4 separate regions of the Homo sapiens genome follow, and regions 2, 3 and 4 are each reported to be linked to region 1. The links are microRNA targets in miRTarBase. Many come from high-throughput screens and were not tested one by one. Region 1 holds a microRNA gene; each other region holds the end of a gene's coding sequence.
The links. Region 1 holds the annotated microRNA hsa-miR-1304-3p (UCUCACUGUAGCCUCGAACCCC, at 2,664-2,685, shown strand). A microRNA usually pairs through its seed, bases 2 to 8, with sites in the 3' UTR of a target mRNA and lowers its output. Matches are read on the target gene's strand: a 7mer-m8 pairs with bases 2 to 8, a 7mer-A1 pairs with bases 2 to 7 and ends in A, and an 8mer does both.

Region 2: miRTarBase lists TIMELESS as a target of hsa-miR-1304-3p. Seed matches in the 3' UTR shown: 7mer-m8 at 2,493-2,499.
Region 3: miRTarBase lists PARVB as a target of hsa-miR-1304-3p. Seed matches in the 3' UTR shown: 7mer-m8 at 3,129-3,135 and 7mer-A1 at 3,173-3,179.
Region 4: the mRNA of PRRT3 is a reported target of hsa-miR-1304-3p. Seed matches in the 3' UTR shown: 7mer-m8 at 902-908 and 7mer-A1 at 947-953.

What each region holds. Positions count from the first base shown.
Region 1 is chr11:93,732,311-93,736,375 of GRCh38, reverse strand. MIR1304 (microRNA 1304) reads left to right here and starts at 2,612; the gene lies at 2,612-2,702. It overlaps TAF1D (TATA-box binding protein associated factor, RNA polymerase I subunit D), which reads left to right. Exons shown (of 6, transcript NM_024116.4): 6 at 72-809. The coding sequence ends at 215. It overlaps SNORA8 (small nucleolar RNA, H/ACA box 8), which reads left to right and starts at 3,877; the gene lies at 3,877-4,015. SNORD5 (small nucleolar RNA, C/D box 5) reads left to right here and starts at 3,076; the gene lies at 3,076-3,148. It also overlaps SNORA18 and SNORA40.
Region 2 is chr12:56,414,303-56,418,365 of GRCh38, forward strand. TIMELESS (timeless circadian regulator) reads right to left here. Exons shown (of 29, transcript NM_003920.5): 27 at 3,832-4,057; 28 at 3,605-3,706; 29 at 2,061-3,484. The coding sequence ends at 3,414. Among named protein-coding and RNA genes, the nearest start is that of TIMELESS, 33 kb to the right of the region's middle.
Region 3 is chr22:44,168,307-44,172,369 of GRCh38, forward strand. PARVB (parvin beta) reads left to right here. Exons shown (of 13, transcript NM_013327.5): 13 at 296-4,063. The coding sequence ends at 372. Among named protein-coding and RNA genes, the nearest start is that of PARVG, 11 kb to the right of the region's middle. RefSeq lists an enhancer at 1,791-2,312.
Region 4 is chr3:9,942,751-9,946,813 of GRCh38, reverse strand. It overlaps PRRT3 (proline rich transmembrane protein 3), which reads left to right. Exons shown (of 4, transcript NM_207351.5): 4 at 1-1,272. The coding sequence ends at 587. CRELD1 (CRELD disulfide isomerase 1) reads right to left here. Exons shown (of 11, transcript NM_001077415.3): 8 at 3,918-4,001; 9 at 3,642-3,737; 10 at 3,299-3,433; 11 at 1,408-2,449. The coding sequence ends at 2,235. Among named protein-coding and RNA genes, the nearest start is that of PRRT3-AS1, 2.6 kb to the left of the region's middle. RefSeq lists an enhancer at 480-1,142.

The sequences.
Region 1 (4,065 bases):
TTCAGCTATATGTAATTACTAAACTATTTGAGTTATTGCTTAATCCATGATTTTTTGTTTGTTTTATGCAGGGGGATAGTTTCATAGTAAGTTCTGAATTCCCTGTAAGACTGAGTGTATACTTAGAAGAAGAGGATATTACTGAAGAAGCTGCTTTGTCTAAAAAGAGAGCTACAAAAGCCAAAAATACTGGACAGAGAGGCCTGAAAATGTGACAGGATCATGAATGTCAAAGGTGAAGCATATAGAAAAAACGACTTCATAGAAATGAATAAAGATAAATGTGGATATATGTACCAGTCTGGTGGTGAAGAAATTCTGAAACCCAGAACTTTATAACAAGAAAAAAAATTTTTAACCCTGTGAAGAAGTTTGTGAAAGAAACTTGTGAAGTAGTAATAATTAGAAAAAAAACCATTAAAACACCAGAGAAAATACATAGAAAAATTTGAGAAATTGTCATTTGATTTCTGAATAAGAGCTTACAGGTGTCCTGTGAGTATTGAAACAATGAAATGTAGTGATTTTAATTTTGAAAAGAAAATCTTAAAGTAACTTGACACCCAACCATCTTGAAGAGGGGATTTGAAATGCTGTAATTTTATCCCAGCTTTGTTCAGCCATGACAAGTGACCTGTCAGATGCTTAGTATTGTAATAACCTCATTTCCCTTTCCAAATTTAGAGTATCTTTAATACTATTTTTTTTAGACAGAGTCTCGATCTGTCACCCAGGCTGTAGTGCAATGGCCGCAGTCTTGGCTTACTGCAACCTCCATCTCCCGGGTTCAAGCGATTCTGCCTCAGCCTCCTTAGTAGCTGGGATTACAGGCGTTAGCCAGCACACCCAGCTAGTTTTTGTTTTTTTAGTAGAGACAGGCTTTCACCATGGTCTCGAACTCCTGACCTCAGGCGATCCGCCTGCCTTGGCCTCCCAAAATGCTGGGATTATAGGTGTGAGCCATGGCACCTGGCCTAATACTACTTTTAACTACCATTTTCACTTTTTATTAGTTCAAGAAAAGGCATACACATTTATTCAACATGTATACCTGGGGAGAACCAGTCATTACCCCGATGTTCATTATTTTGATCACCACGATAGAGCTGACTACTCTGCTATGTAGTGCATTTTGGGACTGCACTTATGTATGTTTTTGTTTAACGTGGACAAAGACTTACAGATAGGTGCAAAAAATAAATCCTCTTTTGCAACCCAGAACTCATTGTTCAGTATGAGTTTTGATACATATAAGAAGGGATATTATGATACCTGAGACAGTTGATTGATGGGAGTATTGATAGCCATAAAGGTTGGTTCCAGGCCAGGTGCAATGGGTCAAGCCTGCAATCCCCACACCAAGGTGGGAGTATTGCTTGAAACCAGGAGTTCAAGACCAGCCTAGGCAAGAAAGTAAGAAACACATCTCCACAAAAATTTAAAAATTAGCTGGGTACTGGGGCATGTGCCTGTAGTTGGAGTTACTCAGAAAGGGGGGAGGCTGAGGCAGAGTTGGAGGCTGCACTGAGCTTTGATGGCACCACTGTACTCCAGCCTGAGTAACAAAGACAGACCCTGTCTCTTAAGAAAAAAAGGTTGATTCCAGGCCTGTAGAATAGATAAACAGCATGGGATATGAGGGAAATCCTCAGCAGTATTAATTTTGCATTCCAATTTCATGTTGATGATATACACAATGGCTTTTTGTTTTAAAGGCTTTTATCTTGAGAACATGGTGTCTGGAGTTAAAGGTATGTCTCAATTTGAGTTTTCACATCATATTTGTTTATGTGTAGGAAACAGTATGTTGTCAGAGCAAGTTTCATTTTATTCAGGGACATTTCTACCATGCTTTTAATTCCCATTTATACTGATTTCTGAAAAGAAGAATCCTAGATTCACACATTTTATAGTGATGTGTCAGATTCATTTTAGTTGCAAGCATTAGAGGGTCCTGAATTTGTTAGTTTGTAGCAATAATCAGAACTTTGGATTTCCTACTTGAAGCCTACAGCATTATTTTGAATTAATGCACAATCTAAAATGAGGCAGAGGATTTTATGGTTTAATGCAAAATATAGTATAATAAAAGATGATTACACAGGTCATAAGAATTCATAAATTTGAATGATGTAGAGTTTGATTAAAAGTTATATAATGCCAAAGTCGTAACTTACAGGCACATTATATTCCTGTATTTTATAATGGATGACAATTAATTTTGAGCCAAGAATTAAAATTTGCTGAAATCTTCGAATTGGGAAAACAACATCCTCTGTTGCAATACTGAAGTTCATAACAACAGTTAGACTTTAAACTTAAATCTTAAGTTTAAATCTTTTTCCTTTGGTTCATGTAAAGGAGCTACTTGATGTTACTTTTTATTTATCATTCCTCTGGCTCCTAAGCACAACGTGATTGTGAAATTATTGTTTTTGTGATTAACGTAGTAGGAAGTTTCTGCAGTTGGCAATATTGTAAGAGCATATTGCAGTTTCTGCTCATAATTTCTTTCCTATGGAGTGTTAGACTTTGTTATTTATGTGTATAAATACTAGCTGGACACAGTGGTGCCTGTGGTCCCCAGCTACTCTGGAGGCTAAGGCAGGAGAAACACTTGAGCCCAGCGGTTTGAGGCTACAGTGAGATGTGATCCTGCCACATCTCACTGTAGCCTCGAACCCCTGGGCTCAAGTGATTCAGCAAGAATCACACGATTTTTAAAAGACATGGCAGATCCTGTGTCTTTAAAAAAAAATCAAAACCTTGTAAATAGTGGTTGAGGTCTATCCCGATGGGGCTTTTCCTGTAGCCTGCACATCGTTGGAAACGCCTCATAGAGTAACTCTGTGGTTTTACTTTACTCACAGGACTATTGTTAGATCTGTGGGAAGGAATTACAAGACAGTTGCTAAAAGTTTGAAAAAGACGGTTGCTAAACGTTATGAAAAACCAGATAATCTACTTTTTTACCTTAGGTATTGGCATACTCCACACATCTGTACCATTCTTGAGTGATCGCTTAGGTAAGTTTTAATTGGTGACAGTATAATCTTTTGGGAAATAATGATTACAGTTCAGATGATGAATTTAACTGTTCAACTGCTGAATGATAACGGGCATGAACTAAAACTTAATTCTGACAGAGCTGGATATGGCTGTATAATAAACTGGATCTTAAATTTATACTTGGGTTTTAGTTTTAATAACTGGAAATGTATCCTTTCTAAATCTTTAATTGGTACTTTCTATAGGAATGAATGTGATTTGAACTCATTCATGTTGAGAGGTAAGTAAAATATTTAACTTATAATAATCAAGGACTCAAAAGATGAAAAATAGAAATTACACCATCCCAGTATTTCAGGTATAACACAGAATTAGTAAGATACTGGCAAAAATATTACAATGTATATATTTGTATAGAGAAGGAAAATGAAGAGACTGCATGTCTATACCTACCAAACGAAACTACCTGTGTTCTTTGCATCATTATTCAACTGGCAGTTACACATATTTCATCCTAAAGTCACGTAAACCTGTGTGGATATGTTGAATCAATAGGGATATGAATTACATAAAAAGAATTTTGTGTAACTGGCAGTTTGAGCAACAATGAGCTTGACGTTTGTTGTCTGATCTGTTAAGTTACATGTATATATTCCATCTTTAAGTTTTATAGAGAGACTGGGCAAAGATTAGGCAAAGACTAGAGTTGTAGCTTAAAATGTAGTTAATGTAGCTTCCTTATTACAGTGACAATTAGGAAAAAAGCTCAAATTATTGTACTTGTTAAAGGAATTTGAGAGGTTTGTGAAAGCATTTCTCAGCAATATTGCAAATTTGGGAATACGAGTTGTACAGTTCAGTCATAATTGCACTGCATGGTATCTGCACTCAGCAGTTTACACCTGCTAGGGTGTTCAAAGGTCAGTGCTATAGAAATTCAGTATCTGGCATCGTTGGTTTTCTTGGCTTTGTGCTTGTTAAACCTGGTATTTCTACTGATACAGTATTTGTGTAGGTTTCTCAGAGTGTTCAGTTTGATATACTCTAAAATAGTAA
Region 2 (4,063 bases), not on the chromosome of region 1:
AAATATTTGAGAGCACCAAATTACCAGAGGGTAGTCAGTGAGAGGTGGGCTTTCCCAGGTAGGTTATTCCAGTCCCAGTTCTCTGTCTCATGAGAGGGGACAGTTGCTTGTCTCTAAGGTCAGTAAGGGCACAATTTTGGCAAACATTTGCCTATTTGCCCTGTGGTGTTCTGCTCAGATCTCCCTTCAAGAGAACACAGAGTGAACATTCTATTTGGCCGACAGCTTCCACTCTTTAGAATGTTCTGCAGTGATCACAGCAGCATCCCTCTCTACAGGCTGCTCTGAGACAATGACAGGTGGACAGTGCTAGAGCCCAGCCAAGTCGGCCAGACATGGGACTCCTCAGTCATGTAATCTTCATTCTGGGGCTCTGTATCAACTTGGCCAAGATTTTCTGAGTAGCACTGTAATTTTTCTCTTTCTCCCTTTCATACATGTGTGACTGTCATCGTGATCTATAGGTTCTCCCAATCTATACCTGAATTGATATGTACTGACTAATCAGAGCTTGTTTAGGTGTCAGAAATGCCGCAAAAGCAGTATCTACCTCTTGCTCCCACATTCCCAGCTTAATCCAAGAGACCCAGAATAAGGAGAAATCAGACGGCTGTGATTCAAATATGTAAGAAATAGCTTTTTACTCCTCTTCTCATTTAAAAATTTCCAAAGGGTAAATAAACGGAAAAGGACAAAAATACCTCTTGTGCCTAATAAATAGTAAATTTTCTTTTTTTTTTTTCTTTTTTTGAGACGGAGTCTCGCTCTGTCACCCAGGCTGGAGTGCAGTGGTGCGATCTCAGCTCACTGCAACCTCTGCCTCTTGGGTTCACGCCATTCTCCTGCCTCAGTCTCCTGAGTAGCTGGGCTACAGGTGCCCGCCACCATGCCTGGCTATTTTTTATATTTTTAGTAGAGATGGGGTTTCACCGTGTTAGCCAGTGTCTCGATCTCCTGACCTTGTCATTCTCCCATCTCGGCCTCCCAAAGTGCTGGGATTACAGGTGTGAGCCACCATGCCCGGCCAATACATAGTAAATTTTCTATACTGATAAACACTGCTAGAAGAAACTGGAGCTGGAAATTTCAAAGAGGGATGGAAAGTCAGGGTCCAGTTCTGGACATTTCTTAGAAAGGCAGCCACGGCCGGATGCGGTGGCTCATGCCTGTAATCACGCCACCGGCTCATGCGGTGGCTCAAGCACTTTGGGAGGCTGAGGTGGGAGGATCATTTGAGGTCAGGAGTTCCAGACCAGCCTGGTCAACATGATGAACCCCCATCTTTACTAAAAATACAAAAATTAGCCAGGTGTGGTGGTGCATGCTTGTAATCCCAGCTACTCAGGAGGCTGAGGCAGGAGAATTGTTTGAACCCAGGAGCCAGAGGTTGCAGTGAACTGATACTGCGCCACTGCACTCCAGCCCGGGTGACAGAGTGAGATTCCATCACAAAAAAGAAAAAAAAAAAAAAAAAAGGCAGCTGCTAGGCCGAGCACGGTGGCTCACGCTTGTAATCCCAGCACTTTGGGAGGCCAAGGCAGGCGGATCACCTTCGGTCAGGAGTTCAAGACCAGCCTGGCCAACGTGGTGAAATCCTGTCTCTACTAAAAATACAAAAAATTTGCGGGGCGTGGTGGCTCGTACCTGTAATTTCAGCTACTTGGGAAGCCGAGGCAAGAGAATCACTTGAACCTGGCAGGCAGAGGCTGCAGCGAGCCGAGATCATGCTGCCACACTCCAGCCTGGGTGACAGAGCGAGACTTCGTCTCCAAAAAAAAAAAAAAAAAAAAAGGCAGATACTGGGGACAGCAGGACACAGCAAAGGAGCAGCACAGCCCGGATCATGGAGGGAAAACAGAGCAGCCCTGCTGGAAGGAAGCAGTGCTCAGGTTGCGAAGTGAAGAAAAGCTCAGGATGAAGAGACACCAAGACTGGCCAGAGCTAGAAAGTGTCTAGCCCTTGGAAACTTCAATTACCATGGAAATAGCTTCACTCCCACTTTTAGAGGCTATGGGAGATCCTCATCTTTTCAGGAAAAAATAAAAATGAAAAGTCAAAGCAACAGGGCAATCCAAATCCATCCTTTACTTAGAAGCCTTCCTGAGCTGAATGGCTATTTTCTCAATCTCACCTTTGCCCTACCTCGGCTGGAAGCACAGGAAGCAAGAAAGCTGACGTTTCCAAGAATGGGTAAGAACATAATATTTGCAGTATTTATCCATCCTTTTCATGCCTAGATTTTGTCCTTTTCTATGCCCCATGCCAACAAGCTGGCTTCTCTTCCTTTATGGCTCCTCCTTCTTCCTGCCGCATACTCTTGTCACCCTAAGAATTTACCCTAGACAAAAGGATCTAGAGGCAAAAATGCTTTTCTGTGTCTTCTGTAGGGAAAGCGGAAGAAAAGGGAAGGTTGTTGGTCTTTTTTTTTTTTCTTTTTTTTTGAGACAGAGTCTTGCTCTGTCGCCCAGGCATATGCACTGGCGTGACCTTAGCTCACTGCAACCTCTGCCTCCTGGGTTCAGGCAATTCTCCTGCCTCAGCCACCCGAGTGGCTGGGATTACAGGCGCATGCCACCATGGCCGGCTAATTTTTGTATTTTTAGTGGAGATGGGATTTCGCCATATTGTCCAGGCCGGTCTCAAACTCCTGACCTCAGGTGATCCGCCCGCCTCAGCCTCCCAAAGTGCTAGGACAACAGGTTTGAGCCACTGTGCCGGTCTGTTGGTCTCTTTTTACCCTAAAATTGTTAAGTTCTTCTTTCAAGAGCACAGCAGGGGAAGGGCTGGGGAACTTAGACATATCGCCAAGTCAGACTGAGATGAGAACTTCTAATCTTACATGTTTAATACCAAACACAAAGCAAACACATTCATCATCTAGAGTACTATATTCCAACCCTATCTCAAATGCAGGAATGGGCCTCTATCTGGTATCTAGAGGATGATCATAGGAAACAAAATGAGGACAGAGGCATCTGGTATCTTCTAAAAGTGGTACAAAACTCCCGCCTGTCATGTCATAAAGCTCCCCATCTGGTGCTGCGACCCACCTCCAAGAGAAAGCCAAAGGAACAGACCAATAAAAGGGGTCCGGGGTGCTTTCTCTATTTCACTCACTCCTCTTATTTGCTAAGGAGCTCCAATAACCAAAAGAAATGGTTCCTAGAAGAAGAGAACTAAATCTCCAGAGAGCTGCTGGGGCATACCGATAAAAACTGGGAGAAACAAAGACTGACAGCAGAGAAGTCCAATACTGCTGCTGAAGTTTCTCAGCCTAAATCCGTGAAAGAGCCTGGGATTCTACTGCTCTGTCCAGTAAGAGGAGCTTCTGGGTCCTGTATGACCCTTCCAACTCTGACTTGAATGCACCATCTAAAAACGTGTCTATCTCTACCCCTAGGCTTCTTAGCTCTTCAGTCATCCTCATCATCCTCAATCTGGTATCGTTTCTTCTTTTGGATTCCTGGAGCTCCCAACTCTGGTGCTGTGGGAACGATGGGGGTGAGAGAGAGAGAGAATATCTAAATATGTTAAGGGGTAAGGACGTGGTAGAGTTTGTCTTCAGGATTAGAGAAGAAAAAGAAGGTCCCATCAAATTCCCTACCTCTGTTCCTGCCCTCATCTTCTTCCTGTTCCTCGTCGCTGTCCAGCAATTGTCGTTTCTTGGGTGCTGCCTTCAGCGGCTCTTTACCAACAGCGTCTTCCTCTGCAATGACCATAAATGACACAAAATTAGGAACTCGGTCCTCATATTCTCAGAACACCTTTCCTGCCCTCTAGACCAACATGGCTGACACGTTAATACTCAGAAGATGGCTGTCGCACTATTACCCTCTGGGGATGCCAGGCCCGCTTTCTTCTTGTGGGCTAGCAAGAGGGCCCTCAGGGCTTGTGCTCGGTGCTCTTTACAGTGCTCCTCATCAGAGCCTTGCTCTCCAGGGACTTTAGGCTGCAGCTCTGGCTGCAGCTTCTGTTCCTCCTCTGGTTGACTCAAAGAAGCTGCTGCCCTCCGGAGCTGGGTAGGACTCAGCTTGGCTGGAATTCGCCAGAAGGTTTCCTACAG
Region 3 (4,063 bases), not on the chromosome of region 1:
CTTAGACATGTCCTGATGCAGATCCAGGAGGGGCTGTGGGAGTGTCTCTGTTCTTGTCACCCCAGGTGCCTGTCCCCGCAGGGTGTCAGCCCGCGCCAGGAGCTCTCACAAAACCTGTGTGTCTGGGGAGGCACTGCCCAGAGCGTCCTGGACATGGTGGTGGCCAGTCTTTAAGGGGAAGCGCTGTGTGTGGATGCGGCAGCTGGTGTCATGCTGGAGACGTGGCTTCTGAGAGTACCTACCGCAATGACAGGAGGATGGCACGCCTCTGAAGTTTCTCTGTTTCCTTCTGCAGACGTGGTTAACTTGGACCTCAAATCCACCCTGAGGGTTCTTTACAACCTGTTCACCAAGTACAAGAACGTGGAGTGACGGGGGAGCTGTGGATGGTGGCAGGAGTGTCCCAGCAAGAAAGGCGGCATCCGTCTGTGCCCTGTGCCTTTCCAGGGAGCCAGGCGCCATGGGCTTCTGGTCCAAGCTGTGTTGACTGTCATCCCCACCCCACCCCTACCTCACGCCTGCCCCACCCCCTGCCTCTTTTGGTTGTTGTTCTTAATCTCCTCTCCATGTAGTTCCCAGTGGGCAAGAGCCTTTGAAAATGCAGGATTCTAAACACTCGTGCTTGCGTTTGAAGCCTCGCGTCACTCAGTCGCGTGGGATGATGAGTCCGTTGTTGTCTGCCTTGGCCGAAAGATGAAAAAAAGCCTGAACCCCAACCCCCAGCTGGTTGAGAGCACCCTGCATTCTGCCTCATGGTGCAGTTAGCGATCACAGGCCTTCAGAAGTACAACATCAGCTCAGCAGGAACGCCGGCTCCCCGAGGACCCAGGCTTGACGATTCACCGGGGATCTCCTGGGCTGGGCTCTCCTTGGAAGTGAGGCCTTTTATTAAAAATAAAAGGGTTTTGCAGTTTGAAAAACTTTAAAGTCCCAGAAGCTTAGATGTGACATGGGTGTCCTCCACCCACATTCCTATCACTTCTTGGTCACTCGTTTTAATGTAGGTTTTGCACAAACATCCAAGACTCAGGATGGCCCAGCTCCCACAGTCCTTGAAAGGAGCTGTCTGCTGGGGACGTTTCTTAATTTCTTGCTGTGGTTGAGGGGCTGGGTCTGGAGATGGCTCTAATTGTGCTGCTTGAGACAGCTTGGGTCACAGCTTTCCCCTTCAGAGGCCCTTTTTGGGAATGAATGCATCTTTGGAAACTTTAAAATGAGGGGGGTGCATTGGTTCACTGGCACTGTGTAGTAAAGTGCCACAGGGGAGTGGCTCAGACATCAGAGAATTACATCCTCAGGCCTTTCGCCTTGGCTTGTAGATGCCGGCTTCTCCCCGTGTCTTCACATGGTCTCCCCTCTGTGTGTCTGTGTCCTCACCGCCTCTTTTATTTTATTTTTTATTTTTGTTTTTATTTTTTGAGACAGAGTCTCGCTCTGTCACCAGGCTGGAGTGCAGTGGTGTGATCTCAGCTCACTGCAACCTCTGCCTCCCAGGTTCAAGCGATTCTCCTGCCTCAGCCTCCCAAGTAGCTGGCATTACAGGCAGGTGCCACCACACCTGGCTAATTTTTGTATTTTTAGTAGAGACGGGGTTTCACCATGTTGGCCAGGATGGTCTTGATCTCCTGACCTCATGATCTGCCTGCCTCAGCCTCCCAAAGTGTTGGGATTACAGGCGTGAGCCACTGTGCCCAGCCTATTTTTTTTTTTTTTTTTGAGACAAGTTCTCACTGTGTCACCCAGGAGTAAAGTGGTGCCATCTCAGCTCACTGCAGCCTTGATCTCCCAGGCTCAATTGATCCTCCCACCTCAGCCTCCCAAGTAGCGGGGACCACAAGTGCACACCACTAGGCCCATCTAATTTTTGTATTTTTTGTAGAGATGGGGTTTCACCATGTTGCCCAGGCTGTTCTCAAACCCCTGGGCTTGAGCGACCCACCCACCTCAGCCTCCCAAAGTGCTGGGATTATAGGCATGAGCGGACATGCCCAGCCTGCACCCCTCTTTTTAGAAGGGCTGCGGTCCTATTGGATTAGGGCCCACTTATATGACCTCATTTAATCTTGATTACCTCCATAAAGACCCTGTCTCCAAATACCATCACATCAGAGGTGCTGGGGTTAGGACTTCAGCATGTGGATTTGTGGGGGGCATAATTTGCCTTGTACCGGGAGGATATGAAGTGTTCATGTTACTCTCCCTGTAGCCCTGAGAGCATCTCCCTTAGAGTATCCTATAAAAGGAGTCGCTGCTCACTCAGTTATGGGTTGTTCACCCCCTCGCTCACCCCAGCTCTGCAGAGAACTGGGGATCCCATCGGCCATGCTTTCTGGGCTGGCCTCTGGTCGCAGTCAGTCCCTCGCTGTGGCGCCCCCCCCTCCCCCAGCTCCTTCCCAGGGTGATGACCCGCTGACCCCCTGGGGTGCACCTGCTGCAAAGCAGCCCCCTTCCTTGGCATCTCTCAGCATTCTCCGTAGTGAGCCTGGCCTTTCTGATCTTGTTAGCTTTTTGTCTTCCTGCCGCAGATCAGAGCTTTGGAGTAAGTTTTGATATGAAATCGAATGCCAACACCGAAGTTTTAGAAAACAGTTTAATATTCCCTCTCAGTTCCGGCTGTTGCTAGGCTGGGGATGGGTTCAGAATAGCCATTTTGATGGAGGTGATTTCCCAGCAGGGGAAAGAAATAATTAAAACAGCATTACGGTGTCTCTTGCGGGATGCAGTGACATTCAAAAGCCACACTGACAAAAAGCCTGGGGCTGGAACGTTCTGTGCTGCCTGCATGGCATGTACAGGACCGCGGCCCCCTGGAGCTGGTGGAGTGGCCCAGCCTTGCCCTGCTCACAGGTGGACCTGGAGAGGGCACTGTGCCTTCCCAGGGATTGGGATTTGAAAAGAACAGAGCTTGGCCAGGTGCGGTGGCTCACGCCTGTAATCCCAGCACTTTGGGAGGCTGAGGCAGGTGGATCACTTGGGGTCAGAAGTTCGAGACCAGCCTGGCCAACATGGTGAAACCCCATGTCTACTAAAAATACAAAAATTAGCCATGCATGGTATGTATGCCTGTAATCCCAGCTATTCGGGAGGCTGAGGCAGGAGAATTGCATGAACCCAGGAGGTGGAAGTTGCAGTGAGCTGAGATCATGCCACTGCACTCCAGCCTGAGCAACAGAGTGAGACTCTGTCTCAAAAAAAAAAAAGAAAGAAAAAAGAAAAAGAAAAGAACAGAGCTGTGATTTTCAGCCAAAATGAGCAGCCCTGGCCCATTCTGTGTCATCAGAGGGGAGAGGACGGTTACTGTGGGAGGGGGCTTCAGCTTCTCAGGGAGGTCCTGGCGGCCCCCATCTAGTAAACCAGTAAACCCATGCCTATCCTCATGCCCACGTCACACTCTTGTGGGTTTCAAGTCGAACAGTAAAAGGAATCATAAGATCTGTGGGGAAGCTACATGGGCACTTGTGTTTCACAACAGGGACCCTTAAAGGCGATGTTTCCAGCAAAGGATGTGATTTTTTTTTTTTTTTTTTTTGAGATAAGTTCTCACTGCGTTGCCCAGGCTGGAGTGCAGTGGTCATTCACAGACACACACATAGCAGACTACAGACTACAGCCTTGAACTCCTGGGCTCAAGTGATCCACCCACTTCTGTATCCTGAGTCCCTGGAACGGCAGGTGCACACCACCGCACCCGGCTTGGATGTGATCTTTTGTCCACATTCTTTTCCAATTGGTTCAAAGGTGTAGGTGTGCCTTTTGCATACCTGGGAAGGGCCCCATTAGGCTCGACTCCTCATTTTTCTCCATTCACCATCAGTTTGAGTCTGAATTCATAGCATGGCCTGGACAGATGCAGCAAGGGGCCAGTTCCAAGGCAGAATTCAGGGTGAACTCGATTCCTATAGGCTTGGGATGAATGGCTGCTGGGACATGAGGCTTGGGTGTGAGATGCCCCGTCTGCTGCTGCTCTTGGTTCTTAGTTCAGAGAAATTCTGGGACCCTTCCTCCTCCCGGCACCACGTTTTCAGTGAATGGTTCTTTGAAGAGGAACCCTGGTCCATAGGAA
Region 4 (4,063 bases), not on the chromosome of region 1:
GACTGTCCCGCAACGGTGTGGGACCGGCGCCATCGCTGAGCGAGCTGGATCTGCGGCCGCCATCGCCCATCAACCTGAGCCGCAGCATCGACGCCGCGCTCTTCCGCGAGCACCTAGTGCGAGACAGTGTGTTCCAGCGCTGCGGCCTCCGCGGCCTGGCCTCCCCGCCGCCTGGAGGCGCTCTGCGGCCGCGCCGGGGCAGCCATCCCAAAGCCGAGCTCGACGACGCTGGCTCCTCGCTCCTCCGCGGCCGCTGCAGGTCGCTCAGCGACGTGCGCGTGCGCGGGCCGGTCCCACAGCACGTAGTGGAAGCACCCGACGGGGCAGCCGCTGCGGCTTCTGGCAGCTCCCTCGACAGCTTCTCCAGGGGTTCACTCAAGATCAGTTGGAACCCCTGGCGCCACGGGCTGTCATCAGTGGACAGTCTGCCCCTAGATGAGTTGCCCAGCACGGTACAGCTACTGCCTGCCCCGACCCCAGCCCCTGATTCTACCGCCGCTCGGCAGGGGGACGGCCAGGGAGAGGTCCAGCCGCGCGGCAAGCCTGGGGAATCCCGCAGCGCCTCCAGTGATACCATCGAGCTTTGAAGAGCGGTCCTGACGCAGGGCCAGGACCCTGCCCGATGCCCACATGGCATGGCCTACTGGGACAGTTGAGCCTTTAAAAAATGGGCATCCTGGCCAGGCGCGGTGGCTCACGCCAGGAATCCCAGCACTTTGGGAGGCCGAGGTGGGTGGAACACGAGGTCAGGAGTTCGAGATCAGCCTCCTGGTCTCGAACATAGCGAAACCCTCGTCTCTACTAAAAATACAAAAAAATTAGCCAGGTGGCACACGCCTGTAGTCCCAGCTACTCGGGAGGCTGAGGCGGGAGAATTGCTTGAACAGGGAGGCAGAGGTTGCAGTGAGCCGAGACCACGCCATTGCACTCCAGCCTGGGTGACAAGAGTGAGACTCCGTCTCAAAAAAAAAAAAAAAAAAAAAAAAAAAAAAGGCATCCCCAGGCCTCTCTACCTGACGGCAACCCCCGGGGGACAGCCAGGTTTGAACTCACCCCACCCCCATGCCGTTTTTTGCTTTTAATATTTCTATTTTTTTTTCAGCCGGCATTTTGCACAGAGGCCGTGTCTTATGCGGAATACAGGGTGGGTGTGCATGGATTCGGGCATGAAGAACAGGGAGCAGGTGCCCCAGACTCCCCAACGTGGAGTGATGAGCCTCGCTTGTCTAGATTGTCCTCTTTGTGCCAAAGAAATAAACCCTTAGGACTTGGCTCATGCTTCCCTCTGGCCATGCCAGGATCCTGTACTCATAGGAGGAAGGAGAGACTGGAGGCCCTGCCTCCCAGTCATTCTAAGTCCTGTGTATTGGACGGAGAGCAGGACTCCGAGGAAAGGTTGCTTGAGGCTTGGAGGCTCTGGTCATAATGGCGACCACACTTTTATTGAATATCTGTTGTGTACTGTCCAGGTCTTCACATTTGTCACCTCATTTAATTCTCATGTTAAGCCTGAGTGGAAAGCATTATGAAGCCCATTTGAGGAAAGAGAAGAGTGAAGTTCAGAGGCAAAAGTCATCTGTCCAGGGTCCTTTGCCAAATGACAGCTGGCATGGAACCCTCCTAAGGCTGATTCCTCTATCCTCCTTCTCCTAACAGCACTTCAGGGGCAACCTTCTCCTCTATCTTTTCTCCACTCACCATCAAAGAAGCCCTCAATTTCCCAGGATTCTAGGACATTTCCCTAAGGTGGGGGTGGTGGGACAGGTAGTAAGACTGATGCCTTTTAACTTTCCAAGACCTTTCTTTATTTCCTGAGATGAATAAATAAGTGGCAATGGGGTGTGGGGATGTGGTGAACACAGAACAGGAACTGGCAGCATGCAGCTGGCAGGAGGGAGCTGTGATGGCCCCACCCCTGTGAGGACCACCTAATCCTAAGCAGGGGCCAAAGCTCTAGCAGCCACCATTAAGGAAAAACTTTTGAAATTCACACATTGTGAAGCCTGCCAGTCCCCGCCAGGTGAAGAGCTCATGGTATCCACCTTCAGGGCTACTTTTTACCCCAGGGGCCTTGTCTGCCCGGGCCTGGGTACCTGGGCTGCTCTGTAAGGCAGGTAGGGGTGCTTACCCCACTCTCAAAAATAAACCAAGCTGTCCTGAGTGTCCAGCAGGAGGGCAGCCCAAGCTCTGGGGGCAGCGTGGGTGGGAGGAGGTCCTACAGGTGGTGGCCGCGATTATCTGCCCTTGATGAAGCCCTCCAGCACACGGTCACTGCGCTCTGACAACCAGTAGCCAGTCATGGCCGCCACAGCCCCAATGAAGATGGCGGTGAACACCAAGTCGCCCTTAGCAGCCAGCGTGGCCAGTGCACAGATGATGATGCCAAAGAACATCTGCTGCAGCACCACCAACTCGTCTTCTGTCATCTCTGAGAAGAAGCCTGCTGACTCTGCAGAGGAGCAAGAGATGCAGCCTGGCACTCGTATCCCTGTTCCTGGTAGTTCTTGGAGTCTCCCCAGAACTCCCACACACCTGATCATCATGGCCACCAGGCCTGCCCAGCAAGCCAGGCACACTACATTTACTGCTCAAAACCACCCTGCAAGGGGCAGTTACCATCCCTGTCTCACTAAATGGGAAAGTGAGGCTCAGAGAGGTAAAGGGGTTGGACTTGCCAAGGCCATGTGGTGGACAAGTTGGGGGCAGAGCATTTATTACGTGTATGAGTCTCGTTCCACGGTCAGACTGTCTGGATTGGGATCCCAGCTTTGCGACTTGCTTGCCATATAGCCCTGGGAAAGTAGCTTCATCTCTCTGCATCTTCATTTTTACATATGTAGAGTGGGGATGAGAACCCAACTTCCAGCGTCGGGTTGTTTCAGGGGTTAAATCAGTTAAGATGGGGAATGCACCTAGAACAGCATCTGACACAGTAATTGCTGGGGAAATGGTCCCTGCCATCATCGTTGTGATTACCCTGCATCTCACCACACCCCCGGCCTAGGACAGCTCTCAGCAGGCCAGGGCAAACACTGGTCCCATTGGATAGATGAGGAAACAGGTTAAGGAGGCAGACTGATTTGATGCCAGGTCTGATTCCCTTTGTACCCTGGAAGGTATAAGGCTGCTGAGAGCCAACCTGGAGATCAGATGTAGAGCCCGGTCTCAGTGCAGCCTCCAGGGGGCTGGGTGGCAGTAGGGATGGGGCAGGGCCTGGAGCTGCCACTGCTACCTGGGGAAGGGGCTTGCCTGCCTTCTCTTTGAATGAGGACCTCCCCTCTCCCGCCCCAGGGCTCACCTGGGATCTGCTCCTTCACACAGATGCCTTCCATCTGCTTGTAGCCCTCGGCACAGATGCAGCGATAACCGCCCTCGGTGTTTTCACACTGCTTGTTCTCTCCCGGACACACCTCTGTCTCACACTCATCCACATCTTGAGGGGAGGGAGGGGTCAGAGTCCTGCTAGGGCCCCCCACCCAGCACCCTGACTCCATCTTGTCCATCTCTCAACACTCCCCTCTGCCCTTGCCCAGGCAACATTCCACCCTTCCTTCCCCCACCTGCCCATATTCCAGCCTCTTCACCATTCATGCTGGGTGAGGCACTCCCAGGTGCCTGTGTCCCATCAGCAGGAGACTCACCGAGACACTTGGAGCCCACCTGCTGATAGCCAGGGCTACACTTCTTACAGCGACCTGGCCCTGCCCCCATGCAGCCTAGGCAGGCCTTGGCACAGTCTGGAGAGAGGAGAGAAAGATGAGGGTGAGATGTGCACCTAGGCCCAGGGGAGCCACGCTCCAGAAGCGGAGGCCTGGGGGTGCTCTGAAGCCTGAGAAGGGGAAGGTTTGGAGGGACAGGTGTGGAGCAGCTCTTCCTCCACTCCTCACGTCCCCTCCTCTGCAGAAGTAGACACTGACCTCGGCACTCATAGGAGCCCTCAGTGTTCACGCAGAATTGGTCAGCTCCACAGTTGGCTCCCTCTGTGCCACACTCATCAATGTCTGCAGAGAGGTGAGCAGGGTGAGAATTTCAATCCCTATTTAGTAGGGAAGCTGAAGCCAGA